Linked DNA regions of Homo sapiens. The protein of the gene in region 4 interacts with the protein of the main gene of each other region in a biochemical or structural test. Each region holds a gene or a part of one and is shown on either strand. Other genes may lie near its edges. The genes, in order: EEF2K, PIP4K2A, GLI1 and RPS6KB1.

The links.
Region 1: the proteins of RPS6KB1 (region 4) and EEF2K form a complex in vitro, tested with the Homo sapiens proteins (one study listed by BioGRID).
Region 2: of the proteins of RPS6KB1 (region 4) and PIP4K2A, one has a biochemical effect on the other in vitro, tested with the Homo sapiens proteins (one study listed by BioGRID).
Region 3: of the proteins of RPS6KB1 (region 4) and GLI1, one has a biochemical effect on the other in vitro, tested with the Homo sapiens proteins (one study listed by IntAct).

What each region holds. Positions count from the first base shown.
Region 1 is NC_000016.10:22,208,327-22,217,305, forward strand, and holds part of EEF2K (eukaryotic elongation factor 2 kinase), read left to right. Parts: intron 1-8,979. UniProt on the Homo sapiens protein: Threonine kinase that regulates protein synthesis by controlling the rate of peptide chain elongation.
Region 2 is NC_000010.11:22,605,832-22,614,810, reverse strand, and holds part of PIP4K2A (phosphatidylinositol 5-phosphate 4-kinase type-2 alpha), read left to right. Parts: intron 1-5,093; coding exon 5,094-5,191; intron 5,192-6,787; coding exon 6,788-6,884; intron 6,885-8,979. UniProt on the Homo sapiens protein: Catalyzes the phosphorylation of phosphatidylinositol 5-phosphate (PtdIns5P) on the fourth hydroxyl of the myo-inositol ring, to form phosphatidylinositol 4,5-bisphosphate (PtdIns(4,5)P2). Has both ATP- and GTP-dependent kinase activities.
Region 3 is NC_000012.12:57,468,758-57,473,720, forward strand, and holds the end of GLI1 (zinc finger protein GLI1), read left to right. Parts: intron 1-673; coding exon 674-941; intron 942-1,559; coding exon 1,560-3,304; 3' UTR 3,305-3,511; downstream 3,512-4,963. Other genes in the region: ARHGAP9 (rho GTPase-activating protein 9), read right to left, coding at 3,760-3,931, 4,846-4,951. UniProt on the Homo sapiens protein: Acts as a transcriptional activator. Binds to the DNA consensus sequence 5'-GACCACCCA-3'. Regulates the transcription of specific genes during normal development.
Region 4 is NC_000017.11:59,909,006-59,917,984, reverse strand, and holds part of RPS6KB1 (ribosomal protein S6 kinase beta-1), read right to left. Parts: intron 7,424-8,979; coding exon 7,374-7,423; intron 5,302-7,373; coding exon 5,181-5,301; intron 3,351-5,180; coding exon 3,282-3,350; intron 1-3,281. UniProt on the Homo sapiens protein: Serine/threonine-protein kinase that acts downstream of mTOR signaling in response to growth factors and nutrients to promote cell proliferation, cell growth and cell cycle progression.

The DNA.
Region 1 (8,979 bases), on a different chromosome or scaffold from region 4:
AGCCTGGCCAACATAGGGAGCCCCCATCTCTACTAAAAATACAAAAATTAGCTGGGCATGTTGGCATGAGCCTGTAATCCCAGCTACTCGGGAGGCTGAGGCAGGAGAATCGAGAATCGTTTGAACCCAGGAGGTATAGTTTGCAGGGAGCTGAGATTGCACCACTGCACTCTAGACTGGGCAACAAAGCGAGACTCTGTCTCAAAAAATAAAAAAGATCCACCAATTTGTTTTTCTTGTGCTTTTTGTAACTGTACAGTACTTTTTGGCTGATTACGGATATATCACTGGCTGGGTGTGGTAGCTCACACCTGTAATCCCAGCCACTTTGGGGGTGCTGAGGCGGGAGGATTGCTTGACCCCAGGAGTTCAAGACCAGCCTGGCTGACGGGGTGAAACCCGGTCTCTATTTAAAAAAAAAAAAATCTCTGATTTGCTTTTAAAACATTTTACTGTATTATGTGGCAGAGAAAGCTATGGGTCACCAGTACCCATGTTCTCGTCCTCCTGGGGTGCTCCCTGGATGAATTTTCCTAGGCTTCCTTACCATTCGGTAGGGCCACACGGCTGAGTTTTGGCTGATGAAATGTGAGTGTGTCCATTTCAAGCCTCGACCCTAAAAACCTCTCACTCTTTCCTTATTTGTTGGACAAGTCAAGGCGACTTTGAAGGCCTAGAGGAGGGCAGAGCCACAAGCCAGAGGGAGTGTTTGTTGTTTTTGAGATGGAGTCTTGCTCTGTTGCCCAGGCTGGAGTGCAGTAGTGTGATCTCAGCTCACTGCAACCTCTGCCTCCCAGATTCAAGTGATTTTCCTGCCTCAGCCTCTTGAGTATGAGCTGGGACTACAGGCACATGCCACCGTGCCCAGCTAATTTTTGTATTTTTAGTAGAGATGGGATTTCACTGTGTTGGCCAGGCTGGTCTCAAACTCCTGACCTCAAGTGATCCACCCGCCTCCCAAAGTGCTGGGATTACAGGCATGAGCCACCATGCCCACCCGGGAAGGATGTCTTTAGGGTTGTTATCTTGCTGTGGGGAGAGTCCCCAAAGCAGTCTTGTCCAGTTTTTGGCAGGGTTGTCGTCTGGTTGCCGGGACTCTGGGAGCTGTGTGAAGAAAGCCAAGGGTGAACAGCAGAAGCTTGGACTTGTTCAAGCTCGTTCTCCGGGATTCACTATTTCTGGTCCAGTTCTTACACCTGAAGCAGAACAACTGAATGATCAGGGCTATAGACAAAGTAATAGCGGCAGGTTGAACTAATTTAAAAGAATCAGTGTTTTTTGTTGAGGGAGATTGGTTCTGCTGACCTGAAAGCTGCAGGTTATTACCCTGATGAACTGAGAAGGCTCCTAGAAGGTGGTTAGAGCGATGACCTTGTCTCCACCTGGGATGAAAGCGGCTTGGGCCTTAAAGTGTTGCTGGATCAAATTCTTGCAGCCAAGGCTGATGAGCACAAGCAAGGAGGCTTCTTTTTTGTTGTTGTTTTGAGACAGGGTCTTGCTCTGTCACCCAGGCTGCGGTGCAGTGGCACAGTCACAGCTCACTGCAGCCTGGAACTCCTCGGCTCAAGTGATCCTCCTGCCTCAGCCTCCCAAGTAGCTGGGACTACAGACATGAGCTACCACCATGGCTGGCTAACTTTTAATTTTAGTGTAGAGATGGGGTCTCACTCTGTTGCCCAGGCTGGGCTTGAACTCTGGGCTCAAGCGATTCTTCTGTCTGGGCCTCCCAAAGTGTTAGGATCACAGGCATGAGCCGTGCCCAACCATATAAGAAGGCTTCAGACAAAGGAAGGAGTGAGTCACTAACACGCTGATGATAAAGCAGAAAATAACAGTGCTCCCCACAACCCCCAAAGTCCCAGGGCTGTGGGACTCCTAGAGAAGCGTCTCAAATGGCTCCAGAGTCAGAAGGTGGATGGCGTTCTGTTCTCCAGCTGTGAAGCTTTCGAGCTCTAGCAAGGACTAGCAAGCCAGAGGAAGCACCCGGAAGTAGGTGGCTAAACTGCGGAAAATTGCCCTAGGCCAGCGTTTCTCTAACTTCAGTGCACATCAGCATCCCCAGCAGGACTTGCTTACACTTTGATTGCTGGACCCATCCCCAGAGTTTAATTTAGTAGGTCTGTAGTGAGGCTTGAGAATTTGCATTACCAGCAAGTTGCCAGGTGAGGCTGCTGCAGTGGCTGCTGCGGCAGCTGGTCCCATACTTTTAGAAGCGCTGGTTAAGGAAGTGATGACTGCATTGAAAGCTCTGGATTCAGCCCGCACCAGCTTCAAACCCAACTCTAGTCATGTGATTTGGGATAAGTCACATAACCTCTCTGTTCCTTAGTTTTCTCATCTGTAGAATGAAGCTAAGAGCGACTAACTCCTGGGGTTCAGGGGAGGCTTCATGAAGGAGGTGATATCTAAGCTGAGACCTGAGGGATGAGCAGTCAAGTTGGCCAGGGGATGAGTAGGGAGGACAGGCTGGGGTGTGTACCAGACAGAGGGCATAGCATGTTCAGAGCCCGAGGAGGAAGGAGTGCCTGCCTTCTAGGGAGCTGGGAGGAGTTATGTAGCAAGTGCTTTGTAAGTGATACTGAAATGCTACCAATCTGTTCTGGGCAGGATCACAGTGGAGAGGAAGCCAACCAGGGTATGGAAAATGGGCTGCTGGACGGGCTCAGAAATGGTACAAGTTATTTGTGCTCTTTCATTGGCCAGAATGCAGTCACATGACCTTACCTAGCTGCAAGGGATGCTGGGAAATGTCCGTGGCCAGGCAGGGGAGAAAGGATTCCTGGAGGAAAGCCAGCTCTCTGTGCCACCTGTGGTTTTCAGGCCCCCTCTCTCACTTCTTCTCCACCTTGCTCACTTTGCTCCACTCTGTTGAGTAGATGAATTTTACAGATGAAGAAGCTGAGGTTCAGAAGGTTAAGTAATTTCCCCCAGCATTCCTCAGCTGACTGTGGCAGGGCCAGGACTTGAATTCATCCCAAAGGCCTTGTTTGGCTAGATCTGGTTTTGGTGCTTATCAGGTCCTCCATGAGCCAGTCTTTCCCACTACGACCTCAGCCATGTCATTGGACTAAGTAACTCCTATGTAGTTACAACACAGTAGGTTGTTTTGTTTGTTTTTGTTTGTTTGTTTTTTCGGAGGTCTGGGGGCGGGGGGATAGAGTCTTGCCCTGCTGCCCAGGCTGGAGTGCAGTGGCACAATCTTGGCTTACTGCAACCTCTGTCTCCTTGGTTCAAGTGATTCTCATGCTTCAGCCTCTCAAGTAGCTGGGACTATACAGGTCGTGTGCCACCACACCTGGCTAATTTTTGTATTTTTGGTAGAGATGGGGTTTCTCCATGTTGCCCAGGCTGGTCTCGAACTCCTGGCCTCAAGTGATCTGCCTGCCTCGGTCTCCCAAAGTGCTGGGATTACAGGGGTCAACCACCGTGCCCAGCCACAACCCAAAAGTCCTTCTGTTTCTCCATTATATCAGCAGGAAACTGCCAGCTTTTCTTCACTTACTCGTTCATTCATGCAGCATGCACTTGTGCATTTATGGTGTGTGCCAGGCATTGTGCTTTGGGCTGGGAGCTGCAGAGGAACAAGACACACGGCCCCTTTTGTTCAAGACACTCACATGGTCTGGCCACCGAGAGGGCTGGGCACACAGTTCATGTGAGAAGTGAGACGTGCTGTATCCCTGAGCTGACCCACCAGGAGTAGAGTGTACCGTGGACATGCAGAGAGTGCCCAGCAAGTGATTAAACATTACAGTTCAAGCTCCCTTGTGCATTTTGCTAATCAAAGCTATAATTATATTTTGTGTTTCATATTCCAAAATGCATTTTTCAGATTCCTGAAACAATAAAATAGCCCTTGCATGATGACAGTTTTATATGCAGAAAACACAGTGTACTGCAATGATATTTTTACGAGCCTTTAGCAGAGCAAATGATGACGTATCTCTGGCTTCTGCAGCAGGTTGCTGTTTACATCGGTAAGTTGATTTCTCTGTCTCTTTCTTTTTTTTTTTTTGAGACAGAGTCTTGCTGTGTCACCCAGGCTGGAGTGCAGTGGCACGATCTTGGCTCACTGCAACCTCCGCCTCCCAGGTTCAAGCAATTCTTCTGCCTTGGCCTCCTAAAGTAGCTGGGATTACAGGTACACACCACCACACCCAGCTGGTTTTTGTATTTTTAGTAGAGATGGGGTTTTCACCATGTTGGTCAGGTCTCAAACTCCTGACCTCGTGATCCGCCTGCCTCGGCCTCCCAAAGTGCTGGGATTACAGTCGTGAGCCACCGCACCTGGCCTTCTCTGTCTCTTTATGGTATGTGGGGAGATTTGTTTTTAAAAGGAAAAGGGGAAGAGAGGGTTGGGGAGGGCTCCTTAAAATTACACCAGAGGCTGGACACAGTGGCTCACACCTGTAATTCCAACACTTTGGGAGGCTGTGGCTGGAGGATCACTTGAGTCCAGGAGTGGCAAGACACCATCTCTACAAAAAATTTTTTAAAATAAGCCAGGCATAGTGGCACAGGCCTGTAGTCCCAGCTACTCAGGAGGCTGAGGCGGGAGGATCCCTTAAGCCCAGGAGTTCAAGGATGCAGTGAGCTGTGATTATGCCACTGCACTCCAGCCTGGATGAGAGATCAAGACACCCACCCAGTCTCTTAAAAAAGAAAGAAAGAGGCCAGGCACAGTGGCTCACGCCTGTAATCCCAGCACTTTGGGAGGCGGAGATGGGTGGATCACCTGAGGTCAGGAGTTCAAGATCAGCCTGGGTGACATGGTGAAACCCTGTCTCTACTAAAAATACAAAAATGAGCCAGGCATGGTGGCACACACCTGTAATCCCAGCTACTCAGGAGGCTGAGGCACAAGAATCACTTGAACCTGGGAGATGGAGTTTGCAGTGAGCCAAGATGTAGTTGCTGCACTCCAGCCTGGGCGACAGAGTGAGACTCCATCTCAAAAAACAAAAGAAAGAAATTCCACCAGATTCATTCTAGAGCTGGGTTTCTCAGCCTCGGCACTGACATTGGGCCGGACCTTCTTCACTGCAGGGGACTGTTCTGTTTATTTTAGGATGTTTGGCAGCATCCCTGGCCTCTATCCACTAGATGCTAGTTGCACCCCTAGAGTTTCAACAACTGAAAATGTCTCTAGACATTGCCAAATGTCCCTTGAGGGAGCAAAATTGCCCAAGGTTGAGAGCTGCTCTTCAGGACTTCGTTAGTTTCCAATTGCTGCTGTAACAAATTGCTGCAATTACTTAGTGGCTTTAAAACAACACATTTATTATCTTATAGTTCCTGGGGATCAGAAGTTCTAAAATCTAGGTGTCAGCATGGCTGTGTTCCTTCTGGAGGCCCCAGGAGAAAATCGGTTTCTTTGCCTTCTCCAGATTCTAGGGGCTGTCCTCATTCCTTGGGCTCCTGGCCCCTCCCTTCCATCTTTGAAGCCAGCAGTGTGGCAACTTCACACCTTTCTGTCTTTGGTCACATCTCTTCCTCTAACTCTGACCCTTCTACCTCCTTTTTATAAGGATCCTTGTGATTACACTGGGCTCACAGGATAATCCATGACTGTCTCCCATCTTAAGATCCTTAATCACATCTGCAAAGTCCCTTTTGCCATATAAGGTAACATATTCACAGGTTCCAGGGATTAGGATGTAGCCATCTTAGGGGAGCCATGTTTCTGCCTGCCGCAGACAGTCTGGCCTCAGGTTATAATGAAATTTGCTTGTGGAGGGTTTGTAGGGAGCGAAGTGATTTAGGGAGTCGGGGACTGGAGGATTATTGGGACATAACAGCAGCTAGTACTTTTGAGAGTCAAGTCTATCCCAGACACCATGTGCCTAATCTCATTGTATCCTCAGAACAACCCCTGCAGGGGTACTGTTAGCTGACCCCTGTTTACAGAGGAGGGAACTATCCAAGGAAGGCTTTCTGGAGGCCAGGTGCAGTAGCTCATGCATGTAATCAACTTTGGGAGGTCGAGGCAAGAGGATCGCTTGAGGCCAGGAGTTCAGAGGCAAGAGGATCACTTGAGCTTGGGAGACTGAGGCTGCCGTGAGCCATGATTGCACCATTGCACTCCAGCCTGGGTGACAGAGTGAGACCCTGTCTCAAAAAAAAAAGAAAAGAGACCAGCCTGGGCAATGTAGGGAGACGCCCATCTCTATAAAAATAAAATAACATAATTAGCCAGATGTGGGTGGTATGCACCTGTAGTCCCAGGTACAATGGAGGCTGAGGTGGGAGGATCACTTGAGCCCAGGAGTTGGAGGCTGCAGTGAGCTATGATTGCACCACTGCACTCCAGCCTGGCCAACAGAGCCAGACTCTCTCAGCAACAACAACAACAACAAACCCAAAAGAAACAAACAAGGAAGGCTTTCTGGAGGAGGTCAACATTTGAGCTGCGTCTTGAAGAGATTAAAGGGTTTTGCTAGTGAGTGGGAAAGGGATTCCAGGCAGAGGTGTTACTGGTGGAGGGTGTCCAGGTTCTTGGCATTTTGAGCAAAGAATTGGACAAAACACACGAACAAAACAAGGAAAGAAAGCAACGAAAGCAAATATTTACAGAAAACAAAAGTACACTCCACAGGGTGGGAGTGGGCTTGAGCAGATTGCTTACAGAATTGCCTGGGGTTTAAAAACCCTCTAGAGGTTTCCCATTGGTTACTTGATGTACACCCTATGTAAATGAAGTAATGGCCTGGGATCAGTCTGATAGGTTGTGGAATGCGACCAATCAGAGGCTGAAGTGAAGTTACAAATGAAGACTCCTATACAAACGAGGACTTGGCCAGCACCAGCCTGATTGGTTGTGGGAAGGGACCAATCAGAGGTAACTTCAGTTTTTCATCTGCCACGCAGGTAAGTTGGGGGTTGCAAAGGGAGTAGCCTCTGGTCCTTTTGTTACTTGGGCTTGGAAAGTAGGGGTTTTCCTTTTGATTTAGTTCTAGGAAGTCAGCCTGAATCAGCCTTAGGTTCCCTGCCTCCAGACCCTATTCGCCTGCCTCAGAGGCACCTGCAGATAGATACAAGGGCAAGGAGGTGAGGAGAGTTTGGTGGTGCATGGAGATTGATTCTTGGACTTGGAAACTTGGGAAGCTGAGATGGCAGGGAGGAAGGGACGGATGGGCTGGACTCTGTAAATTGGTCCTTTCATTCTGATGTACTATTTCTCTCAATAGTTTAAATAAATGTTTATGAGCACCCATTATATGCTAGGGGTGCAGACATTAAGACACTGATGTGAACTCTTAGCTTGATGCTTGACTTAATCACTCCTAATGCTGCATCCCAGTAAATAAACACTGAGCAGCCAGACACGGTGACTCACACCTATAATCCCATCTCTTTGGGAGGCTGAGGCGGGTGGATCACTTGAGGTCAGGAGTTCAAGACTAGCCTGACCAACATGGTGAAACCCCGTCTCTACTAAAAATACAAAAATTATCCAGGTGTGGTGGCGGGTGCCTGTAATCCCAGCTACTCGGGAGGCCGAGGCAGAAGAATCACTTGAATCCGGGAGGCGGAGGTTGCAGTAAGCCGAGATCACGCCACTGCACTCCAGCCTGGGTAACAGAGGGAGACTCCATCTCAAAACAAAAGAAACACTAAACATAAGGGTATTTGAGTTCATGTTGAGCACCTGTGCACTGAAGGCAATACAAGGTATGGGGGGAGGGATGGAGACAGCAGTGCAGACCTTAGGATGTCACAGCCCACCTGACAAGTCTATTGTCTAGGAGAGGGTCCCAGCTCCTAATGGTGGGGCCCAGGATTCAAACCCTGGCCATGCGGCTGTAGAGGACAAGCTGTTAGCCACTGTATTGGGCTTTGGTTTTTGTTTCTTGTTTGAAGGAAACTCGGGACTCCAGCTAGGGTTTAAAATATCTTCAGAACAAGCCAGGTGCAGCCCTCAACAGCCTAGCGCTGTGTAGTTCCGCTCCCTTAAGGTTGCCTTTTCAGAGGTAGACTGTCACTTCTGGACCTAGCAGCTCCTGTCATTGTCAGAGGAGAGTCCAGTGTAGCACCTGGTGTGCAGTCAGTCTTTCACGTGCATTATTTGTCTTTCTTATTTCCATAGAAATTACGCCTTTTTGAGGTTGATAAGCTTTTGAGGTTGATAAGCAGATAAGTAGCTCTTCTGCTTACTTATCACTCATTCACAGCACAAAAGCCACACTCTCCCTTCTCTGAATTCGTGTTAAACTGTGAGAAACTCAGCTTCTTCTAGTTGGTGGAATAAGACAGTGTCCTTGGCATGGTATGTAAAGGAACCAGATGGCTGGGCACTGTGACTCATGCCTGTAATCTCAACATTTTGGGAGGTTGACGCGGGAGGATCACTTGAGACCAGGGGCTTGAGACTAGCCTAGGCAACACAGCAAGATGCCGTCTGTAATAAATAAATAAAGGAACCAGAAGAAGACCTACCAGTGTAGGGATAGGGTGGGGAAGGGAAGTAGTAAGGGGAAGTAGAGCTAAAGTCTCATTTATCATACCTGGAAATCAGAAGATAGGATGAAAATAGATAAATTAAGAAATAATCAGGGCCGGGTGCAGTGGCTCATGCCTGTAATCCCAGCCCTTTGGGAGGCTGAGATGGGTGGATCCCTTGAGTCCAGGAGTTTGAGACCAGCTGGGCACATGGTGAAATCCCATCTCAACAAAAATATACAAAAATTAGCTGGGTATGGTGACGCGTGCCTGTGGTCCCAGCTACTCCGGCGGCTTATATGGGAGGATCACTTGAGCCTAGGAAACAGAGGTTGCAGTGAGCCAAGATTGCGCCACTGGACTCCAGCCTGGGTGACAGAGCAAGACCCTGTCTCAAAAAAAAAAAAAAAAAAAAAAAGAATCAGGAAGCGTATTATTTAGTGATATATATAGATAGATAGATAGAGAGAGAGAGAGAGAGAGATGCGAAGGATAACACTGAGAATAGTTGGAAGTAGTTGCCTCTAGGGTTGGGAAGTA
Region 2 (8,979 bases), on a different chromosome or scaffold from region 4:
GCAAAGTAACAGGCTAAAGGAGAGAGTTTTTCAGGAAGTTAAATGTCTTTTCAGTTATTAAGCAGCTCTGCAAGTAATCCATTTCAGTAAAACTGACGAATGATCGCTAAGCCTCATATACAACACAATAAAATGTGTTGTAGAAAAAATAATATAGAGGCTCATGGGTACACTATTGAAAAAATAGTTTACTAATTAAAAGCTTCTCTTTTAAGTAGTAGATCCTCTGTTTTGTGAAGTGTTTGTTTACAAGTCATTAAATCTAGCTACCACCTGACGAAGAAGTTTTCTGGGGGGAATCCGGAGGGGAAATAAAGCCAAAAGCAATGTGATGCAAATGTAAAGAATGAAAGGCCACCTGGAAGAAAGATAAAGTAGCCATAAAGTAGCTGTCAGATCTAACTCAGTATCCTGCCGCACTACTCAATTATGAAGGTATAGATACTGCTGTACCAGGACATATTACAATCTGCAAAATGAGAGGTTAGACTATATGATCTCCGAAATTCTCTTTTAATTTCAGCATCTTATGATTCCATGTAAACCATTTGATTTTTCTTCTTGTCTCATTTCTTGTCTTCTTAGATAAAGAGGACCAAACATTCTCTACCTCTTGGGGTAGTCTGGTTTTGGAAGATGGGGAATAGCTAAAAGTTTGTGTTTCCCTGACATTTAAATGACACAGTAGTCAGAACTCTCCGTCCCTCAAGGGCCATGTAGGGCTGCACTCCTTCCAAGAAGCCCGTCACCCACACCCGTGACCACGGGCTCCTGCTCTGTGCTTCTGTGGCACTTGTTGTCTGGCTTCAGCATTTCTTCTGTGCTGCTTGGTATTTTACTACATGTGAAGGTCTTGCACCATCGACTACAGTGGAAAACTCCTTACAGTCAGGGATCTTGTTTTGTACTGACTTTCCATTTCCAAGTGATGGTCCTGGAACTCCTTTCCCCTTTATGTCACACTCAGCCAGCAAACACCCTCCATCCTGAAGAACGCCTGTCATCCTGTCTCTGCACCTGCACCCTGGGGTTGAGCTCTGCCAGAATGAGGAATGTCATCCACAAGTTCACTTGGTTCCTGTACGTGAACCATCACAAACTGTGGATGACGCTCAGCTCTGCCCGGAAGCCCAGCCTCCTGTCTCTATTTAAACTTGTCCATCCACATTCTGCAGTCCCCTTTTTAAGCTCTCTGTGTTCTCTTTAACCTTTGAAGTCCTCAGCCTGCTTCTCACTCTTAGCAGGTGGCCATGGCCCTAATCCCCAGAGAAAATAGGAGCCAGTGGTCGGGAGCCCCATCTTCCCTCCATCAGTTCTGCTCCCTCCCCATGACACCTATCTCTTTTCCCTCCTGTGAACAGGAAAGTCGCTTCCCTCCTCAGAGCCTCTCCTTCCTGCATGCCTGAATCCCATCCCCTCCCACTTTCTCGAGAAGTGCTACGGAATGTCCCTTCTCTGTCAGGTCCTCCCTCTGTCCCTCATCCCTCTTCATCTCGCTCCTGTCCTTCCCTGCCAGGCTCCTTAGAAATCAGCCCTGTGCAGTGCCAGCATTTCCTTAACTCAACTTAGTCTGGGTTCCATTGCTACACTCCACCGAAACAACTCTGCCAAGGTTGCCAAGGACCTCCTGTGCCGTTCAATCTGGCTGACATTTCCCAGTCCCTGCCTTCTCAAAAGCATCATGATCATCCCATAGCATGTTTGAACCCCCTTTTCCCTTCACTCCCATTGGGTGGCCCTGTGCTTTTTCACTTCCTGCCTCGATGGCAGTTTTCCCCTTTCTCATCCTCTTCTCCAGGCTTGGAAACATTCCCGTTCTTGAAGACTGCTTCTCCGCCTTCCTCCCCATCACACCGGCCCCTCTCCAGGTTACCTCATCCACTCCTCTGGGGAGCTAATGTCTGATGCACAGATACACACATTTTTATCTCTTGCCCCTGCTGCCCCTGGGAACTTCAGACCCACCTGTCCACGGCCTACCTGACATTGACACTTAGATGTCCCAAGAGCGCATGAAGTTTAACAAGCTCAAAACTGAACTCTTCTCTTAAGATGCATTGTGCCAGTCGTTGGACCCACCAGCTTCCCCCGCATGCATGCAGCATTCCCTCCATCTTTCCCTACATTTCTAGTCTGTCATCATCAAGCCCCATAGATTTCAGCACTTCAGCATGCCGGAGTCTCTCTGCTTCTTTCGTTTCTGCTGCCGCCTCCGCCCTCTGCTGAGCTGCTCTCCTCTGTCTGGTGCAATTCTACAGCAGCCGCTTCCCGGTGCTCCTGGGCCTGTTGTTCATCCCTTTCATGCCACGCACCTTGTCTATTTCTGCACTGTTTTCCCATTAACAGTGTCCCCTCCTCTCTAGGACTCGCCTTCTTCCTGGAAGCCCTGTCCACCTGCCCTCTCCTTTCTCCACGAGCCATTGCTGCCCAGGGAAGCCTCACATGCCTCCCCCATCTGGCCTGGGCCTTTTCCATACTTGCTCGTAGCCCATTGTGCTTCTCCCTCCTGACTCTGTCATTGTTAGAGTTCAACACTTGGGGCAGTTCTTCAGTTAATGTGTCTGCCCCTCTGGACCATAAGCCCCAAGAGGACAAAGACTGGTGTCCGAGCTGTGCCCAGCACAGAGTGGACTCTTAAAGGTTGTGCTGACGCGAGGATGGGTGGGGAAGGAAAATCAATAAGGAAAATTCTCAGTTTACTCATTCCATGTTGGCTGAAGTTTTCATATTTTCTCCACAAAACATGTTCCAGAGCAGGTACCATAAAGCAAAAGGATGCAGAAAGTTTCTGGTTTCCTGTTTCCTGTCTGAGAAGACTCTCTTAAGTGATACTGATTTAAGCAGCCTGAGGAGGCATCAAAGCTTTGGAGGATCTGCTGAACACATCACGCGCATTTAAATAATCAGTGTCTGATCCCACCTCCACGTTGGGTTTCGCTTTCTCTTGTTCCACAAGATATCGAAGTGCTGATTGAGTTGGCATCCAGCTTCATTCGCATTGTGTTTATTATCACAAGACTTGGATTTCCATTATGATTTTCTTTTTCTGTTATTTTTCAAACTTTGATATTCCACTGATAGCATAAGGATACATAAACTTTAATTTTTCATAGATATACTCTGGGAATGACTTAGTATCATAAGATGCTTGAGTAAAGTGAACTGGAGAAGCTATATGACGTTAGATTCCTGTTTTTGTTCAGTGGGTTTGAGAAGCTAGCTGTCAGCTGTCACTATCATTCCTCTGTTGTGTTTGCCTTTTCTCTCTGGCCACCATTCCTTTCTTCTCTTTGCATTTGGCCTTCTTTAGTTTAACTACAGCGTATCTAGGTATGCTTTGAGTATTCTTACTTATATATTGCTTTGAGTATTCTGCTTTTTTTTGTTTTTTTTTTGTTGTTGTTGTTTGTTTTTTGTTTAACAGACATGGATCCACTCTGTCACCCAGGCTGGAGTGCAGTGGTACAATCACAGCTCACTGCAGCCTTGAAATCCTGGATACAAGTGATCTTCCTTCATCAGCCTCCTAAGTAGCTGGGACTACAGGTGCACACCACCACGCCCAGCTAACTTTTGTTATTTTTTTATTTGTTAGAGACGAATTCTGTTGCCTAGGCTGGTCTCAAAGTCCTGGGCTCAAGCAGTCCTCCTGCCTCAGCCTCCCAAATTGCTGGGATTACATATATGAGCTGCTGTGCCCAACTGTATCTACAGATTTATAACGTGCATTAATTGTGGAAAATTCTGAATCATTATTTTTTCAAATATAATCATCTTTTGTTCATCTTCTATTTCTGTATAATTTCTCACAGCTTAAAAAATTCTATATCTGATCATCTTAGTAACTAAAGTCTTGAAAATATTAATTAGTCGTTGCTGTCTCTGTGAGCTCATGTTTGATTGATCTTCATCTGTGGGAAGCCTGGAGGCCTGGCAGGGGTTGCTCTCCTCCGGAGATCATTTACATTTACTTCCACCAGGTGTTGGGGCCACTTTCAAAGGCTTCCTTCAAGGATCTCAGGTTAACGTTGAAGCCTTTGTTGAGCTCCCAGCTTTCGTTTGGCCCAAGTAAGTGTTGAAACTGGCATTTGTCCTCGGAGTCCCTCCTTTCAGGCTTGCTTAATGGTCCCCACACTCCCTGTGGATTAAACTCACTTTGGGGGAAGAAAGGTGTCTTGGAGATTGCCTCTACTGTCTGTGAACCCAGCAATGTGATTAAAAAAAACAAATAGCTCTATCAAGCAGCTCATTCTTTTGTTGTTTGCTTGTTTTGTTTTTGTAACTGAGAATCCTTCAGCGTACCTGCCTTCTATCCTACTGGAAGCATAAATCTTTGACATGGTTTTTATTGCTAGCAACAAGGAAAGTCAACATGCAAAAATAGTTAACGAAGAGAAAGTTCAGGTTTTTCAAAATTGTGTCCAAAGCTGTCCCTTTCATTCACTGGAACTTGATCTTACCCTTTGTCCTTTGGAAACACATCTTTGCTTTTGTTCTTGACTCATGTCCAACCCACCTCCTTCTCTTGTAGTCCTGGGACCACGTGTCTTCTTCCTTCCCTGAATGGAGGTTCTTCTTTTGGTAAATTCATGCCCCACCCCAATCTTTATTTTTAAACTTAGTTCCTGTAAGGGAAGTAAAGAGCACACAGATGAGTTCAATATATAAATCACGTCCATTAATCCAACAAATATTTACGTGAAAAATTTAAAAGCTTTCTTTCTCAGATAACATTTTCTTTACAGAAGGAAGTTGTCCTGGACATGTGACCAAAGGGTCTGTGGGATGAGGTTGTGGAGGGAAGGTAGGGAGAGTGGATGGGCAAGAAGCAGGGACAGGTGGCATGAGGATTGACTCTCCCTCACCACTGCCGTCCGGTGGCCACCATGGACCCAGCATCAGACAGACATAAGAAGTGGGAATGAGGAAGGCAGGAAGAGAGATTATGATGGCAGAGGGAAGGAGGGTGGGTTGGTGGGTGGGAAGAGAAGTTCCTGTGTCCACCATGTTTTTTTTCCCAAGGTACACATTCAAGTCAAGTCCTCCTCACCTGGATAGTAATAACCCATGCTATTTATTTTATATTTTTCCAGATCAATGAACTGAGCCATGTTCAAATCCCTGTTATGTTGATGCCAGATGACTTCAAAGCCTATTCAAAAATAAAGGTGGACAATCACCTTTTTAACAAGTAAGTACAAGTATGACCTTTCATAAGACTAGCGTGGCTGCTAGGAGTACAAGTTTTGTGAATTTTTGTAATCACATAATTTGTCAATGGGTGGGAGTAAAGTTTTGCTGATGAAGTTAATCCTGTGATAAACATAACCATCTGTCATTTTTAGAGAAGCAACAGCAGGCTCTCTGGGATAATATCCTTTGCCATATGGCATATTGTTCTCTATGAATATCTTATACGTTGAAAGTGATATTCTCATTATAATTCAAATTTTTGAAGCTGTAAATTGCTTGGATTTTTGAGCAGTTATGAACCTCTGCTCTTGTACACAGAACTTTGAAAATGATGATTTATGAACAGCAATGACTCCATCTTAGAACAATAAAGACCCAAGGTACATTTTCATAAGGCACAATTAGATGCCATGTTGGGCATTGATAACATTCCTCCTTCATTTGAATGTTGTTTTAGACGTCATTATGAAGCACCTATTATATGTTAGGTGGTCCATTGAGAGCTAGAGATGCAATGATATAGAAGACACGGCCCTGCCCTCAAGGGGCTCAGAGTACAAAAACTGACACATATACAAACTGCTATAGTTCAGTGTGCAAAGTATGATAAGGGAGGGGTGTGTGCATATGTATAATTTAATTTATCTGGTTGTGTGGGAACACAAAGAGGGAAACAATTCTGAATGATTAGGGTGAACCTCAAATCACTCCCATGTGAGGATCATTATGAAATTTTTTTTTGAGACAGGATCTTGCTCTGTTGCTCAGGCTGGTGTGCAGTGGTGAAATTATATCTCACTGCAGTCTCAAATTCCTGGGGTCAAGCAATCCCCCTTCCTGAGCCTTCTGAATAGCTGGGACTACGGGTGCAGGTTACCATGCCCAGCTGATTTTTTAAAAAACTTTTTGTAAAGACAGGGGTCTCACTATGTTCCCCAGGCTGGCCTCAAACTCCTGGCCTCAAGAAATCCTCCCACCTCAGTCTCCCAAAGTGCTGGGATTACAAATGAGTGGTGTAAGCCACCATGCCAGGCCAATTATGAAATTTCTTCAGGGGGCCATTGTCCTTATGTGAAGCTGATGTTAATTTTTCTCATAACAGTGTTTAGAAGCTGACTTTCAGGGAATTTCCTCTAAGCAAATTTAGAATGTGGCATTTATATAAAACAGGCCTTTTAGGGGGGTGAGGGAGTGGCCCTCCTTTCCTCAGCAGTAGCTGAGAGGGAACCTTGCTCCGCTGCCTCTTCCTAACTCACTCTCCCGCCATTGTGCTTTTCCCTCACTGCTCCCCCTGCCTGGCCCGTTCCTTCCCCACCTCTTGTTCTTTGAGGAATGGCTGCAGTGTGTGGCCAGGATTTAAAGAGGTCACATAGTCCAAGCGTGCCTGTGACAAAGGAGACAGACAGACATCCGTCTGGCCCCCTGTGTCTCCTGGATCTTTCTGCGGGTTGTACCTGGTTCTAGGAAGCACACCTGTGCTTTTGGTAGGCAGTGAACTCTGAACCCTTCTTTGGCTACCTGTGGAACTCAGTGGTGGCAGATGCAAGTCTGATTGACTCTCTCTGAGCTTTATTCCACGCTGTGACTGTTTCAGAGAAAACATGCCGAGCCATTTCAAGTTTAAGGAATACTGCCCGATGGTCTTCCGTAACCTGCGGGAGAGGTTTGGAATTGATGATCAAGATTTCCAGGTGAGTTGCGTTTGTAACATTTGCTTCCAGTAGGAAATGGGTTTTGCCATGACTTTTGCTGTGTCAATTGGGATCTGTATTTTTGTCAATAAAAGTATTATATAATAGTAATTTTCATTTTGTGTAAGAAGTTTTTAATGTTCATGCTGAAGTAAAGTGTTCTCTTGATTGGGGACCTCTATACATATGATACCGGTATAAAAGTCAGTAGGAAAATATATTACTTTTCTTTGGAAGGAGACTGAGCATGTGAGGGTTTTATATAATACTCTCATTTCCAGGTGGAAATTAACAGGCTAGCAGAGCTGCCTGTTAATTTCTGCTGTCAGACATGTCAGTAGCCTGTGTGAGTGTGCATGTTTTGTATCTTCGTAGAGGCTACTTAGGACTCTCAGGAATCTTTATCTTGCTGATTTGCTGCTTTTCAAGTTGGTCAGACTCTTGCTGCAGCATTTTTGTCAAAGGGCACCCTTTGTGCACTGCAGTGCTGGACTGTGGAGTGACCATAGCACTGTGGTCAGCACCAGGAACCCAACATCCTGGGCGTGTCCTGTGGTACATCTTCCTCTTCATCTTGATTCCCACCACGTAAAAATGTGCACTGCTGCTCTCCTCCCCACACTGGCCTGGTCCTTCATTCTAACTTTTAAACATCTGTTTTAACTCTTTAAATAACTGTTGAGCCATGATCATTTTTTTCTGAGAAAGGATTTGACATTGGTTACCCAAGTTTCATATAGCGAGCCAGATTCGTAAATGCTAAGGATTTTTTTTAAAAGTGGAAATCCAAGGGACAGGTTGAGTATCCCAATCAGAAAATCTGAAATCCAAAATGCTTCCAAATCGAATATTTTCTGATCATCAACGTGATGCCACAAGTGGAAAATTCCACAGTTAAGTGCTCAACACAGCCTTTGTTTCATGTACACAATTATTTAAAATATTGTATAAAATTACCTTTAGGCTATGTGTATAAGGTGTATATGAAATAGATAAATTTCGTGTTTAGACTTGGGTCCCATCCCCAAGATATCTCATTATCTTTGCAAATATTCTGAAATCTGAAAAAATCTGAAATACGACTGGCTGCAGGCATTTCAAATAAAGGATGCTCAGCATATACTGACTTAAGTCCCTTCAAATCTAGTCCTAATCTGCCCTCAATTTAAGATCTGAATTTATCCTGCATTAAGTGACATATTGCCACCCTGGGTGACTACAGATTGAGTACTGATACAGCTTACCCTGTATTTTCCTCTGAAGAATAGGGTCCCTCAGGCAAACTGAGATAGTTAGCACACTTTCCTAAAGATCTGTGCTCCCACTGCCCTCTCTGTACCATTGCCAAAAATTTCCAGGAATTTTTCATATGTTTACTCAGGCATGAGAGAGGCTGCCATGTTTGGAGAAAGCAGCGCTGACCAGGCTGCCGGTGACATTGTCTCATGATGGCCTGGGGTTGTGGTTTACATGGAGGTCCAGACCCTGAGCTGAGGCTCTGTGTACACAGAAGAGCTGAGGGCTGGCTAGTGGGACAGGAAGGATGTGGTTGCTCATCTGCTATTAAAACTGCGTGGGAGCCAACACTCCTGTTAGGGCGTTTCTTTTTTTTTCTTGATACAAGGTCTTGCTCTGTTGCCCAGGCTGGAGTACAGTGGTGTGATCATAGCTCACTGCAGCCTCAAACTGCTGGGCTCAAGTGATCCTCCGACCTCAGCGTCCAGAGTAGCTAGGACTACAGGTGTGCACCACCATGCCCAGCTAATTTTTTTTTTTTTTTTGGTAGAGATTGGGGTCTCACTATGTTACCCAGGCTGGTCTCAAACTCCTGGCCTCAAGCCGTCCTCCCAGAGCATGAGCCAGTGCACCTGGCCTTGGGGCTTAATTTTTAAGAGAGAACTTAGATCACAATTATGGACTTGAAATTTACTGCTGTAAAAATAATTAACTTTAACAGAAAATTATTAGAATAGTAAAAAGCATTTCTCTGAAGTTAAAATTAATAATTCTGTATCACTTTAGAACCATTACTAAATTTAAAGAGGCCACCTGAAAATGAACTAGGTGCTTTTTTTTTTTTTTTAAAGGAATTAAC
Region 3 (4,963 bases), on a different chromosome or scaffold from region 4:
TCTTTCTTTTTTTTTCAGACGGAGTCTCGCTCTGTTGCCCAGGCTGGAGTGCAGTGGCATGATCTCGGCTCACTGCAACCTCCGCCTCCCAGGTTCACGCCATTCTGCCTCAGCCTCCTGAGTAGCTGGGACTACAGGCGCCTGCCACCACGCCGGGCTAATTTTTTTGTATTTTTAGTAGACATGGGGTTTCACTGTGTTAACCAGGGTGGTCTTGATCTCCTGACCTCGTGATCTGCCCACCTCGGCCTCCCAAAGTGCTGGGATTACAGGCGTGAGCCACTGCACCCGGCAACTCTTTCTTAAATAGCACTTAGTATATGTTCCAAGCCTTTTACATGTATAATTTCATGTACTCCTCACAGCAACTTCATGATAAAGGGACTCACTGTTCCCATTTTCAGTTGAAGAAACTCAGGCATAGAGAAATAGCCCAAGGTCATAGAACTAAGAGCAAGAATTTGAGTCCAGCCAGTCCGTGCTCCAGCCTAGGTTCTTCTCATCAAACGTCTCACATTCAGTTTGCTCCCCCATCTCTTACCTGCTTAGCCCTTTCTACACTTACAAGCTTCCTTGGAACCCCAGCAGTCACTGGGACACAGGCTTCAGCCACTCATCAAGTTGAAGGAGCTGTGGGGAAGGGTGTTGCCCTCAGACCTCATCTTCTCCACAGAAGCCACAGCCAAGCCCTGGGGCCCAGTCATCCTGCAGCAGTGACCACTCCCCGGCAGGGAGTGCAGCCAATACAGACAGTGGTGTGGAAATGACTGGCAATGCAGGGGGCAGCACTGAAGACCTCTCCAGCTTGGACGAGGGACCTTGCATTGCTGGCACTGGTCTGTCCACTCTTCGCCGCCTTGAGAACCTCAGGCTGGACCAGCTACATCAACTCCGGCCAATAGGGACCCGGGGTCTCAAACTGCCCAGCTTGTCCCACACCGGTGAGACCTGGGTGTGGGAGGTGTGGCTGGGGTGAGATCTGGACCTGCCCTGAGGTTGAGAGGAGGAAGTCACCCTTGAGGGCTGTCACACAGCACTTTTGTATAATTAGAAAATGGTGTCCTTCCTCAAGACACTTTCCATTTATCAGAAAATAGTTGTGATGTACAAACATGCAAAGGCTAGCCAGGCATGGTGGTGGGCACCTGTAATCCCAGCTACTCAGGAAGCTGAAGCAGGAGAATTGCTTGAACCTGGGAGGCAGAGGTTGCAGTGAGCTGAGATTGCGCCATTGCACTCCAACTTGAGCAACAAGAGCGAAACTCTGTTTCAAACAAAACAAAACAAAACAAACAAACAAACAAGTATGCAAAGGCTATGATGCGAATGCTGTTCCCTAGGATTGTGCAGCACACAACCTGCACAACTGTTCATAGCAACCCTGAATCCTTGGTAACCCAGAAACAGAATAGGCATGGGAGAAGTAGGAGACAGAACAGACTGGTTAGGGATAACGAGCTTACCCCTGAGAATCCAGGGCAAGGCTGTTGCATGGAGGAGGCAGGGTGAAATTTAGGAAGCTCCTTGACCATCCTACCTTTTCTCCCCATCACTTGCAGGTACCACTGTGTCCCGCCGCGTGGGCCCCCCAGTCTCTCTTGAACGCCGCAGCAGCAGCTCCAGCAGCATCAGCTCTGCCTATACTGTCAGCCGCCGCTCCTCCCTGGCCTCTCCTTTCCCCCCTGGCTCCCCACCAGAGAATGGAGCATCCTCCCTGCCTGGCCTTATGCCTGCCCAGCACTACCTGCTTCGGGCAAGATATGCTTCAGCCAGAGGGGGTGGTACTTCGCCCACTGCAGCATCCAGCCTGGATCGGATAGGTGGTCTTCCCATGCCTCCTTGGAGAAGCCGAGCCGAGTATCCAGGATACAACCCCAATGCAGGGGTCACCCGGAGGGCCAGTGACCCAGCCCAGGCTGCTGACCGTCCTGCTCCAGCTAGAGTCCAGAGGTTCAAGAGCCTGGGCTGTGTCCATACCCCACCCACTGTGGCAGGGGGAGGACAGAACTTTGATCCTTACCTCCCAACCTCTGTCTACTCACCACAGCCCCCCAGCATCACTGAGAATGCTGCCATGGATGCTAGAGGGCTACAGGAAGAGCCAGAAGTTGGGACCTCCATGGTGGGCAGTGGTCTGAACCCCTATATGGACTTCCCACCTACTGATACTCTGGGATATGGGGGACCTGAAGGGGCAGCAGCTGAGCCTTATGGAGCGAGGGGTCCAGGCTCTCTGCCTCTTGGGCCTGGTCCACCCACCAACTATGGCCCCAACCCCTGTCCCCAGCAGGCCTCATATCCTGACCCCACCCAAGAAACATGGGGTGAGTTCCCTTCCCACTCTGGGCTGTACCCAGGCCCCAAGGCTCTAGGTGGAACCTACAGCCAGTGTCCTCGACTTGAACATTATGGACAAGTGCAAGTCAAGCCAGAACAGGGGTGCCCAGTGGGGTCTGACTCCACAGGACTGGCACCCTGCCTCAATGCCCACCCCAGTGAGGGGCCCCCACATCCACAGCCTCTCTTTTCCCATTACCCCCAGCCCTCTCCTCCCCAATATCTCCAGTCAGGCCCCTATACCCAGCCACCCCCTGATTATCTTCCTTCAGAACCCAGGCCTTGCCTGGACTTTGATTCCCCCACCCATTCCACAGGGCAGCTCAAGGCTCAGCTTGTGTGTAATTATGTTCAATCTCAACAGGAGCTACTGTGGGAGGGTGGGGGCAGGGAAGATGCCCCCGCCCAGGAACCTTCCTACCAGAGTCCCAAGTTTCTGGGGGGTTCCCAGGTTAGCCCAAGCCGTGCTAAAGCTCCAGTGAACACATATGGACCTGGCTTTGGACCCAACTTGCCCAATCACAAGTCAGGTTCCTATCCCACCCCTTCACCATGCCATGAAAATTTTGTAGTGGGGGCAAATAGGGCTTCACATAGGGCAGCAGCACCACCTCGACTTCTGCCCCCATTGCCCACTTGCTATGGGCCTCTCAAAGTGGGAGGCACAAACCCCAGCTGTGGTCATCCTGAGGTGGGCAGGCTAGGAGGGGGTCCTGCCTTGTACCCTCCTCCCGAAGGACAGGTATGTAACCCCCTGGACTCTCTTGATCTTGACAACACTCAGCTGGACTTTGTGGCTATTCTGGATGAGCCCCAGGGGCTGAGTCCTCCTCCTTCCCATGATCAGCGGGGCAGCTCTGGACATACCCCACCTCCCTCTGGGCCCCCCAACATGGCTGTGGGCAACATGAGTGTCTTACTGAGATCCCTACCTGGGGAAACAGAATTCCTCAACTCTAGTGCCTAAAGAGTAGGGAATCTCATCCATCACAGATCGCATTTCCTAAGGGGTTTCTATCCTTCCAGAAAAATTGGGGGAGCTGCAGTCCCATGCACAAGATGCCCCAGGGATGGGAGGTATGGGCTGGGGGCTATGTATAGTCTGTATACGTTTTGAGGAGAAATTTGATAATGACACTGTTTCCTGATAATAAAGGAACTGCATCAGAAAAAATACCATGCCACTTTATGTATTATTATGTTGGGGAGGAATGATAACAGGGAACAAGAAGAGAAGCAGGGGTTAATCCACTCACTTTCCTCTTTAGAGAAGCTCCCTCACCCATCCCAACACCTCAAGTCACACTCATGAAGATAGAGACAGTCATTTGGGAGATTTAAAGGGATATCCTCAAAACAGAACACCAGCCTCTCACCACCAGAGATGACCGGAAATATGTTTTCTCTTCTTCCTTCCCTGCATCAGGGGAAGAGGCTGGTGAAGTTGGTGAGCATCAGCTGGACCAGCTGCCCTGGGTAGAGAGCATGGGCTGCTGGGTCAGATGTCTCCTGCTCTGGCCGAAACAGGGTTGGTCCAAACACAATTCCCAGGTTGTGGGGTGTCATGCGATTCTTATCTGAGTGTGCTATCACCCTGTAAGCAAAGGCCAAGGAAGGGGATATATGGCAGCAGCTTGCCACTTCATAGCAATCTAACTAACCCTTCAAAGTTCTGAGCAGGGAAGAGTTCACTCTGGGATTCCTCCACATGGTAACAAAAAAACCAAGGAGATACAAGGAGAATGGAGATGGACCAGTGGAGAAACCTTCAGGATACAACCTGAAGATATAACTGCCTCTTCCGACTTCAGGGGCTGCCCCAAGAGTTCTGCCTGCTCACAGTTTGGGAGTCTTTAATTCAAGTGGCCATCCTCTCTCAGAAGTCACTGCCCAGGCCCAGTTCAACCAAAGAAGCCATCAGCAATGTCCCAATGGGAGACAAAGAGGCAGAGGGAAGGGAGAAGTAAGATTTCCCTTATTCCTTTCACAGCATCTTGGTTCCATTTCCCCACTTGATGCTGACCTTTAGGTTTTGACCTAAAGTCTTTGACGGGCACGGTGTAATCCCAGCACTTTGGGAGGCTGAGGTGGGTAAATCACCTGAGGTCAGGAGTTCGAGACCAGCCTGGCCAACATGGTGAAACCCCGTCTCTACTAAAAATACAAAAATTAGCCAGGCGTGGTGGCGGGCACCTGTAATCCCAGTTACTCAGGAGGCTGAGGCAGGAGAATTACTTGAACCCGGGAGGCAGAGGTTGCAGTGAGCTGAAATTGCGCCACTGCACTCCAGTCTGGGTGACAGAGCGAGACTCTGTCTCAAAAATAAATAAAATAAAAAAATAAAGGTTTTGACTCTGGTAATATGCTCCTGCACAGAGGTTGCCTGCTTCCTCACCTGCCCATTAAACTTAGGTGCTTCCCTACCTTCACTCCACCTGCACAGAGTCCCTGTGGCATTCCCCACTCCACCTTTCCCCAGCATGAACAAAGAGGTTCTGTCTTCCTGACCTGCATAAATGCTCCAGGAGGTACCGTAGAGTGTCATGGTTGGGCTTTGGCATTGAGCCTATTAATTCTTGTATCTGAGAGAGGCACTGCTCTGATTCGGAGAGTGCTAGAGAGAGTG
Region 4 (8,979 bases):
TCCAGCCTGGGCAACAAGAGCAAAACTCCATCTCAAAAAAAAATTGAGTAGAAGAAAGTAAACAAGACAAAGAAATGGAAACGTGGAAAAGATAAGAAAAATTAGATGATCGGTCCAGGAGATCCAACATCCAACTAATTGCAATTCCAAGAAGAGAAAACAGTGGGAAGGAAATTACCAAATAAATCACATAAGAAAATTTCCTAGAACTGAAAGACTAAAGCTTTAAGATTAAAAGAATAAAAATAGGCTGGGCACAGTGGCACATGCCTGTAATCCCAACACTTTGGGAGCCAAAACAGAACAACTGCTTGAGGCCAGGAGTTCCAGGCCAGCCGGGGAAACACAGGAAGACCTTGTCTCTACGAAACATTTTAAAAATGAACTGGGCGTGGTGGCATGCATCTGCAGTCCTAGCTACTCAGAAGTTGTGGCAGGAGGATCGCTTGAGCCCAGGAGTTACAGGTTACAGTGAAGTATGATCACACCACCACACTCCAGCCTGGGAAACAGAGTGAGACCCTGTCTCTTAAAAATAAATAAATTAATTAATTTAATTAAATAGGCCGGGCGCAGTGGGCCATACCTGTAATCCAATCCCAGCACTTTGGGTGGCCGAGGCGGGTGGATCACTTGAGCCCAGGAGTTCAACACCAGCCTGGGCAACATGGTGAGTGCCCATCTCTACATTTTTTTTTATTAGCCAGGCCTGGTGGTGCGTGTCTGTGGTCCCAGCTACTCAGGAGACTGAGGTGGGAGGATAGCTTGAGCCCAGGAATTTGAGGTTGCACTGAGCTATAATTGTGTCACCGCACTCCTGTCTAGGTGACAGGGCGAGACCCTATCTCAAAAACTAACTAAATAAAAATAATAATCAAAGTCAAAGCAACACACATCACTATAAAAACTTAGATCAGAAATAAAGAGAAAATCTTAAATATTTCCACAGAAAAAATAGGCCATGTGTAAACGACTGGGAATCAGAATGCCAAAGCACTTCAACAGAAACTCTCAAGAATAGAAGAAAACTGAGCAAAATTCTAAGTGAAAATAATTTTCAACTCCAATAACATAAACAATCAAGTAAATAAAAATGTAAAGAAATTCTCAAATATGCAATATGGATATATTTTTATTATAAATGTATCTTTATATACCTTGTCTGAGGGAGCCACTAGTATAGTGTCACCAAAACAAGGACATAAACTAAGAAAAAGGGAAAAAATGAAGATATGGGATCCAGGAAACAAAAGATCCAACACTGAAGGAGCCAAGAGGATTCCAGGGTTGTGGTGAAGAAAGAGTCCAGTCATAACAGTTGTGACTAAAGAGCTACCACTCCAGATGGGAACAGGTGGATAGAAAGTTCCTAAGATATGCCTCTGGGAAATAAATGGAACTGATAGATTATCTTATAAGCCTGATCAAAGAACATTAGACTGAAAGGTGTTTTACAAAGTTGTTGGAAGACATCAGAGGACAATAGTAGATTCAAAGAAAGCAAAACAAAATGAGAGGATGAGGATAAAGGAGGGTGAAGTAAACAAGAAACAAATCCTTAACTCGCATAAAAGAAAGTTAATACTGCCAGGCTCGGTGGCTCACGCCTGTAATCCCAACACTTTGGGAGGTCAAGGCGGGCCGATCCCCCGAGGTCAGGAGTTCGACACCAGCATGCCAATATGGCGAAACCGCATCTCTACTAAAAATACAAAAATTAGCCGGGTGTGGTGGTGGGCGCCTGTAATCCCAGACACTCAGGAAGCTGAAGCAGAGGAATCGCTTTAACCTGGGAGGTGGAGGTTGCAGTGAGCTGAGATCACGCCACTGCACTCCAGCCTGGGCAACAGAGTGAGGCTCCGTCTAAAAAAAAAAATTGAAAACTGCTGAATTAAAAAGATAGCAGTTGGCTGGGCATGGTGGCTCATGCCTGTAATCCCAGCACTTTGGGAGGCCAAGGCGGGCAGATCACCTGAGTTCGAGACCAGCCTAACCAACATGGAGAAACCCCATCTCTACTAAAAATACAAAATTAGCCGGGCGTGGTGGCACATGCCTGTAATCCCAGCTACTAGGGAGGCTGAGGCAGGAGAATCACTTGAACCTGGGAGGCGGAGGTTGTGGTGAGCCGAGATCACTCCACTGCACTCCAGCCTGGGCAACAAGAGCAAAACTCTGTCACAATAAAAAAAAAAAAAAAAAAAAAAAAGATAGCAGTAGGCCAGGCGCAGTGGCTCGTGCCTGTAATCCCAGCAGTTTGGGAGGCCGAGGCAGATGGATCACCTGAGGTCAGGAGTTCGAGACCAGCCTGGCCAATATGGTGAAACCCCGTCTACACTAAAAATCCAAAAATTAGCCAGGCGTGGTGGTAGGCGCCTGTAATCCCAGCTATTAGGGAGGCTAGGGCAGGAGAATCACTTGAACCTGGGAGACAGAGGTTGCAGTGAGCTGAGATTGTACAACTGCACTCCAGCCTGGACAACAGAGTGAGAGTTCATCTCAAAAAAAAAGAGATGGCAGTACATGCTTATTACTTAGAAATAAGGAGATCAGAAACAGTGAAGAGTTACCTCAGCAAAGAATTGCAAGAGCTCTCTTTTCCACACTCACCAAGCAGAAATAAAAATAGGAATAACAGTAATGAAACATACCTCACATTCTAAAAAGTATTGCAACTGTGTTAGAAATACATTTTTTGCCGGGTGCGGTGGCTCATGCCTGTAATCCCTGCACTTTGGGATGCCGAGGCAGGTGGATCACTGAGGTCAGGAGATCAAGACCATCCTGGCCAATATGGTGAAACCCCGTTTCTATCAAAAATACAAAAAAGTAGCTGGGCGTGGCAGCATGCACCTGTAGTCCCAGCTACTCGGGAGGCTGAGGCAGGAGAATTACCTGAACCCGGGAGGTGGAGGTTGCAGTGAGCCGACATCGCACCACCGCACTCCAGCCTGGGCGACAGAGCGCGACTACGTCTCAAAAAAAAAAAAAAGAAAAGAAAATAAATACATTTTTTCTGTAAGAGACTGGGTCTTACTACATTGCTCAGGCTACCCTTGAACTCCTAAGTTCAAGCAATCCTCCTGACTCAGTCTCCCAAGTAGCTGGGACCACAGGTGTGCACCACTGTACCTGGCTTGAGATACATTTTTTTGACTGCAAATTTTAGGCCAAAATGTTACAACAATTAAAAATATGATATGATTGCTTCCCAGCCTTTTGGCTGAGATCAAGTGTAAAAATATGGTGTGTGAGGACTAAAAAGGGGGAGTGGAAATCACCTTTTTAAGCACCTTCATGGCAAATATTTTCCCAGTATTTGCTCCTGTTACTTTTCGTACTTGAAAAACCTGGATTAAAAAAAAGTGTGTGTTATTCAAAGGCAAACTATGTCAGGCATACTCCCTTAATTCCTAGTTATAAGAAACATATGCCACAGCAGTTTATATTATAAAAACTATGTGCAAAAATGATCAGCTAAAAGAACAGACCACATTAATGATCATGACTTTCCTGTTTGTTCTGCTGCCATCTGGTGGTAATGTTGGACAATGACCATCTAATAATAAACACTGTTACTTTATATTAATATATAAAATCCTACTTAGAACAAGCTATAAACAGTGTTCCCAGAGGCATAATACCACCTTAAAAATTATAAAATATTTCATAAATTTCTTTCAAGGTTGCTTGCCACTGCCCTTGCTTCACATAAAACTATTTAAAAATAGTTGGCAGTAAAAATTATAAAATATTTCATAAATTTCTTTCAAGGTTGCTTGCCACTGCCCTTGCTTCACATAAAACTATTTAAAAATAGTTGGCAGGAAATTACTGTTTACCTATTACTTAAAATAGTTTGTACTAATACTTGGCCCTCTGAATCTACAGGTTCAGCAGCCGTGGATTCAACCAACCGCAGAATGAAAATATTTGGGGGAAAAAACAATAAACAATACAAACAATAAAAAATAACACAAATATGGCCAGGTGAGGTGGCTCACAACTGTAAACCCGGCACTTTGGGAGGCCAACTCGGGTGGATCACCTGAGGTCAGGAGTTCAAGACCAGCCTGGCCAACATGGTGAAACCCCATCTCTACTAAAAATACAAAAATTAGCCGGATGTGGTGGCGCACACCTGTAATCCCAGCTACTCGGGAGACTGAGGCAGGAGAATCGCTTGAATCTGGAAGGCAGAGGTTGCAGTGAGCTGAGATCGTGCCACTGCACTCCAGCCTGCGGGAAAGAACGAGACTCTGTCTCAAAAATCATAAAAAATAAAATAAAAAATTAAGCATATGGGAGGATGTGTGTAGCTTATATGCAAATACTATGCCATTTTATATAAGGCACTTGAGCGTCGGCAGATTTTGTTATCTGCAAAGGTCTTGGAATCAGTTCTCCCTTACCCCTCCCCCATACTGAAAGACAACTATAAACATTTTCATGCAACACCTAAAACATGTGAGATTCAAAGTGCATGTGTTGCACATTCAGGATGATTAGAAATTACAATGTGTTCTTAAGCATAAGAATAGGCTACAAATGTCTGCTTTGCAAAAATTAACACTACACAATAGCAAAAATAATTCTTAAAACTTAATACTAACCAAGTTATTATCTAAATTATTTTGATAAGAGAATAGTTTGGTAAAAAGTTTTGTGGGCAGAACTCATAAAAGTGACGTCTTAAGTTGTAAAGCCTTGGGCAAAACTGTGAAACTAAATAGTTTTCTTCCCCCTTTTTATATTCCTTCAGCTTCCCCAATTCTATTGCTCCAGAAAACCAGTTGAGATTAAGGTCTCAGTAACAGATAACAACTCAGACTGCCATGTCTCTTGTAAGCAAGGAGGGCTTTATTTTTAAAGAGGATACCATTTAACCAAAGTAAAGAATGAACCCTTTAATAATAGACTTTGCCTGGTACAGTTGTCTATTTATGTATTCTATGAACCTTGACTGAGTACCTATTATGTGCCAGGCTTTTACATGTGTGGTGGTATGAAAAGAAGGGAAAACTGAACTTCTGTACATCCCTCAAACATACCAGCTAAGTGGTCATGATCACATCCTTTGCTGATAGCTGACAAAGACTGAAGATGACTGCTGGAACCAGGGCATAAAAATCAATCTATTCAAGACAGACAACAGCTCTCATTTCAAAAATATTGCCTACCTTTCCATAGCCCCCTTTACCAAGTACCCGAAGTAGCTCAAAACATTCTGGTCTGATTTTTTCTGGCCCTCTGTTCACACTAGTTTCTGAGATTTCAAATTTCTCACAATGTTCCATGCCACTGGGAAGAAAAGCAAAACCAAAAATAAATTTGCAAAAAGTTAAATTACTTTCAGCATATAGTCAAGAAAAAGGAGACAGAGAAATGTAATCTAAGTAAGTAAAAGTAAAAAAGTACATGACACCAAATTATTTGTGCTCTAAACAAACAGAACAGCAGGTCAAGAGGAGGGTGGCCTGATAATCGTTTGCCTCCTTGTTCATAGAATGGGCAATCAATTATTTACTTATTTTTATAATTGTTTATTTTATGCATAAAGGGGTACTATGGTTTTTCATTGGGTAGATGCCTTGGATAATCCATTCAAGTAAGATCACTTAGTCCAACTTAATGAAATCTATATCCTTCGTTTACTGATAGAAACACTGGCGCACATATTGAGGCCGTATTTCTGGATCAGACCTTGCCAGTTTGAGCAGACACAACAAGAGCAAGAACCCTGATTGAATTTTCATGGGTGACTCCAATACAGCTGCTGGTGACCCATCTTGCTCTTAGGAGTGCAACAAAGTAAAAGAAGACAATTATTTATTTTCATAAGCATCAAGCACCCCAAAGCTAAGGTAAGTTAGAAAAAGTTCATTAAGTTGACAAAGAAAAAAAGTCTTGCAGTTATTCAAATTTACTTCATTGAAAATATCTATGAAATTAGGTATTATCCAACCTCATTTGGCAATGTCAGCAGAAAATCAGGGATCTTTCCAAAACTACCCAATTAGTTCACATCATAGTACAAAACTTCTTCTCTGTATCTGTTTTTTCAAGTTATTAGCTTGATTTAAAGAATCCAATGGGCGTGGTGGCTCATGCCTGTAATCCCAGCACTTTGGGAGGCTGAGGTGGGCGGATCACTTGAGGTCGAGAGTTCAAGACCAGCCTGGCCAACATGGTAAAACCCTGTCTCCACTAAAAATACAAAAATTCCAGCCTAGCCAACATGGTGAAACCCCGTCTCTATTAAAAATACAAAAATTAGCTGGGCGTGGTGGCAGGAACCTATAATCCCAGCTACTCAGGAGGCTGAGGCAGGAGAATCACTTGAACCTGGGAGGCAGAGGTTGCAGTGGGCCGAGATCATGCCATCACACTCCAGCCTGGGAACAAGAGCGAGACTTTGTCTCAAAAAAAAAAAAAAAAAAAAAAAACCCAACAAAAATTAGCCAGGTGTGGTGGTGCGCTCCTGTAGTCCCAGCTACTTGGGAGGCTGAGGCAGGACAATCGCTTGAACCCAGGAGGTGGAGGTTGTGGTGAGCCGAGATTGTGCCACTGCACTCCAGCCTGGGTGACAGAGGGAGACTCCATCTCCAAAAAAATAAAAATAAAGAATCCAAAAGGGGTAGCAATTGTCTCTGTCATTTAAATGCTTTCTACATGAGTGATCTATCTTCTCATTCTCCTCCTACACTAATGCTTTTTACTTGAGAGTACAATACAGAGCAGATTAATCACCATACTCACCTAATGGAGCTTGTCTAAAATGACTTAAGATTACATGAATTTCTTTTTTGTTGTTGCTGTTGAGACGGAGTCTCGCTATGTCGCCCGGCTAATTTTTGAATTTTAAGAAGAGACGGGGTTTCGCCATGTCGGCCAGGCTGGTCTCGAACTCCTGATCTCAAATGACCCGCCCACCTTGGCCTCCCAAACTGCTGGGATTACAGGTGTGAGCCACTGTGCCCAGCCGGATTGCATGAATTTCTGTTTGAATGACTGTATGAATTTCTGTTTGTATATTTAAGCAAAACAGAAAGCATTTGACTTTTTGAGGCATTTCTACAAATTTTTCTGTAAGAAAAGATTAAAACTGTGGCTCTTTAAACTAACAACTCAGATTCATATTTAGTACTCTGAATCTGAATTAATATCTTTTCCTCAAAATCCATACATAATCTCAAAACTCTGATAGGTTATATTGATCAGATTTTGGTGCCAAATTCAATACATCGAGTTGATAAATATGACTACATATTTAAGAACAGGTTACAGGAATCACATGATTGCTACGAAATAGAACTGATAAAACCTACTTGTAAGAAAGACAACACAATGAAAATCTCTTCATATAAACTTACAGTTCATATGGTCCAACTCCCCCATGGTCCATGCTTTCATTTAACTGACCCTGAAAAATATGTTAAAAGTTTCAGAAATAATCTAATAAACATAAAATTTAAAGGTTTAATTCTTTGTCTCATAACTGAAAGAGAATGAATGAAATAAACCAGCCTAACAATTCTCTTATACTTCAACAACAGGCAAATATGGTAATGAACAAAACACAGTACACAAACAACACTATGGGAATTTCACTCTAAATTATTTTACAAATAGAGATGAGGTCTTTCTATGTTGCCCAGACTGGAATGCAGTCAATAGCTATGAAGGGGTATGATCATAGCATACCAGAGCCTTAAACTCCTCAAGTGATTCTTCTGCCTCAGCGTTCCAAGTAGCTGGGACTATAGGCACCCGGGTTTTTTTTTTTTTTTTCTTTTTTGAGATGGAGTCTCACTCTGTCACCCAGACTGGAGTGCAGCGGTGCCATCTCAGCTCACTGCAACCTCCGCCTCCCAGGTTCCAGTGTTTCTCCTACCTCAGCCTCCTGAGTAGCTGGGAGTATAGGCATGTACCACCATGCTTGGCTAATTTTTGTGTATATATATATATTTTTTGAGATGGAGTCTTGCTCTGTTGCCCAGGCTGGAGTGCAGTGGCGCCATCTCGGCTCACTGCAACCTCCACCTCCCAGGTTCAAGTGATTCCCCTGCCTCAGCCTTCCGAGTAGCTGGGATTACAGGTGCCTGCCACCATGCCTGGCTAATTTTTTATATTTTTAGTAGAGATGGGGTTTCACATATTAGCCAGGATGGTCTTGATCTCCTGACCTTGTGATCTGCCCACCTCAGCCTCCCAAAGTGCTGGGATTACAGGCGTGAGTCAACACTCCCGGCCCTAATTTTTGCATTTTTAGTAGAGATGGGGTTTCATCATGTTGGCCAGGCTGGTCTCGAACTCCTGACCTCAGGTGATCCGCCCTCCTCGGCTTCTCAAAGTGCTGGGATTACAGGCGTGAGCCATCACACCCGGCCCCAGCTTTTGCTTTTAATTTTATATGACAGGCTGGGCATGGTGGCTCACACCTGTAATCCCAGCACTTTGGGAGGCCGATGCGGGCAGATCACGAGGTCAGGAGTTCGAGACCGGCCTGGCCAATACGATGAAATCCAGTCTCTAATAAAAATACAAAAATTAGACGGGTGCGGTGTCGCATGCCTGTAGTTCCAGCTACTCAAGAGGCTGAGGCAGGAGAATTGCTTGAACCCAGAAGGCAGAAGTTGCGGTGAGCCGAGATCACGCCACTGCACTCTAGCCTGGGCAACAGAGCAAGACTCCATCTCAAAAAAAAAAAAAAAAAAAAAAAAAAAAAAAAAAAAAAAAAAAAAAAAAAAAAAAAAAAGCCACGTGCGGTGGCTCATGCCTGTGGTCCCAGCAGTTTGGGAGGCCGAGGCGGGCAGATCACCTGAAGTTGGGGGTTCGAGACCAGCCTTACCAATATGGAGAAACCCCATCTCTACTAAAAAAATACAAAATTAGTCGGCCGTGGTGGCCCATGCCTGCAATGCCAGCTACTCGGGAGGATGAGGCAGGAGAATCACTTGAACCTGGAAGGCAGAGATG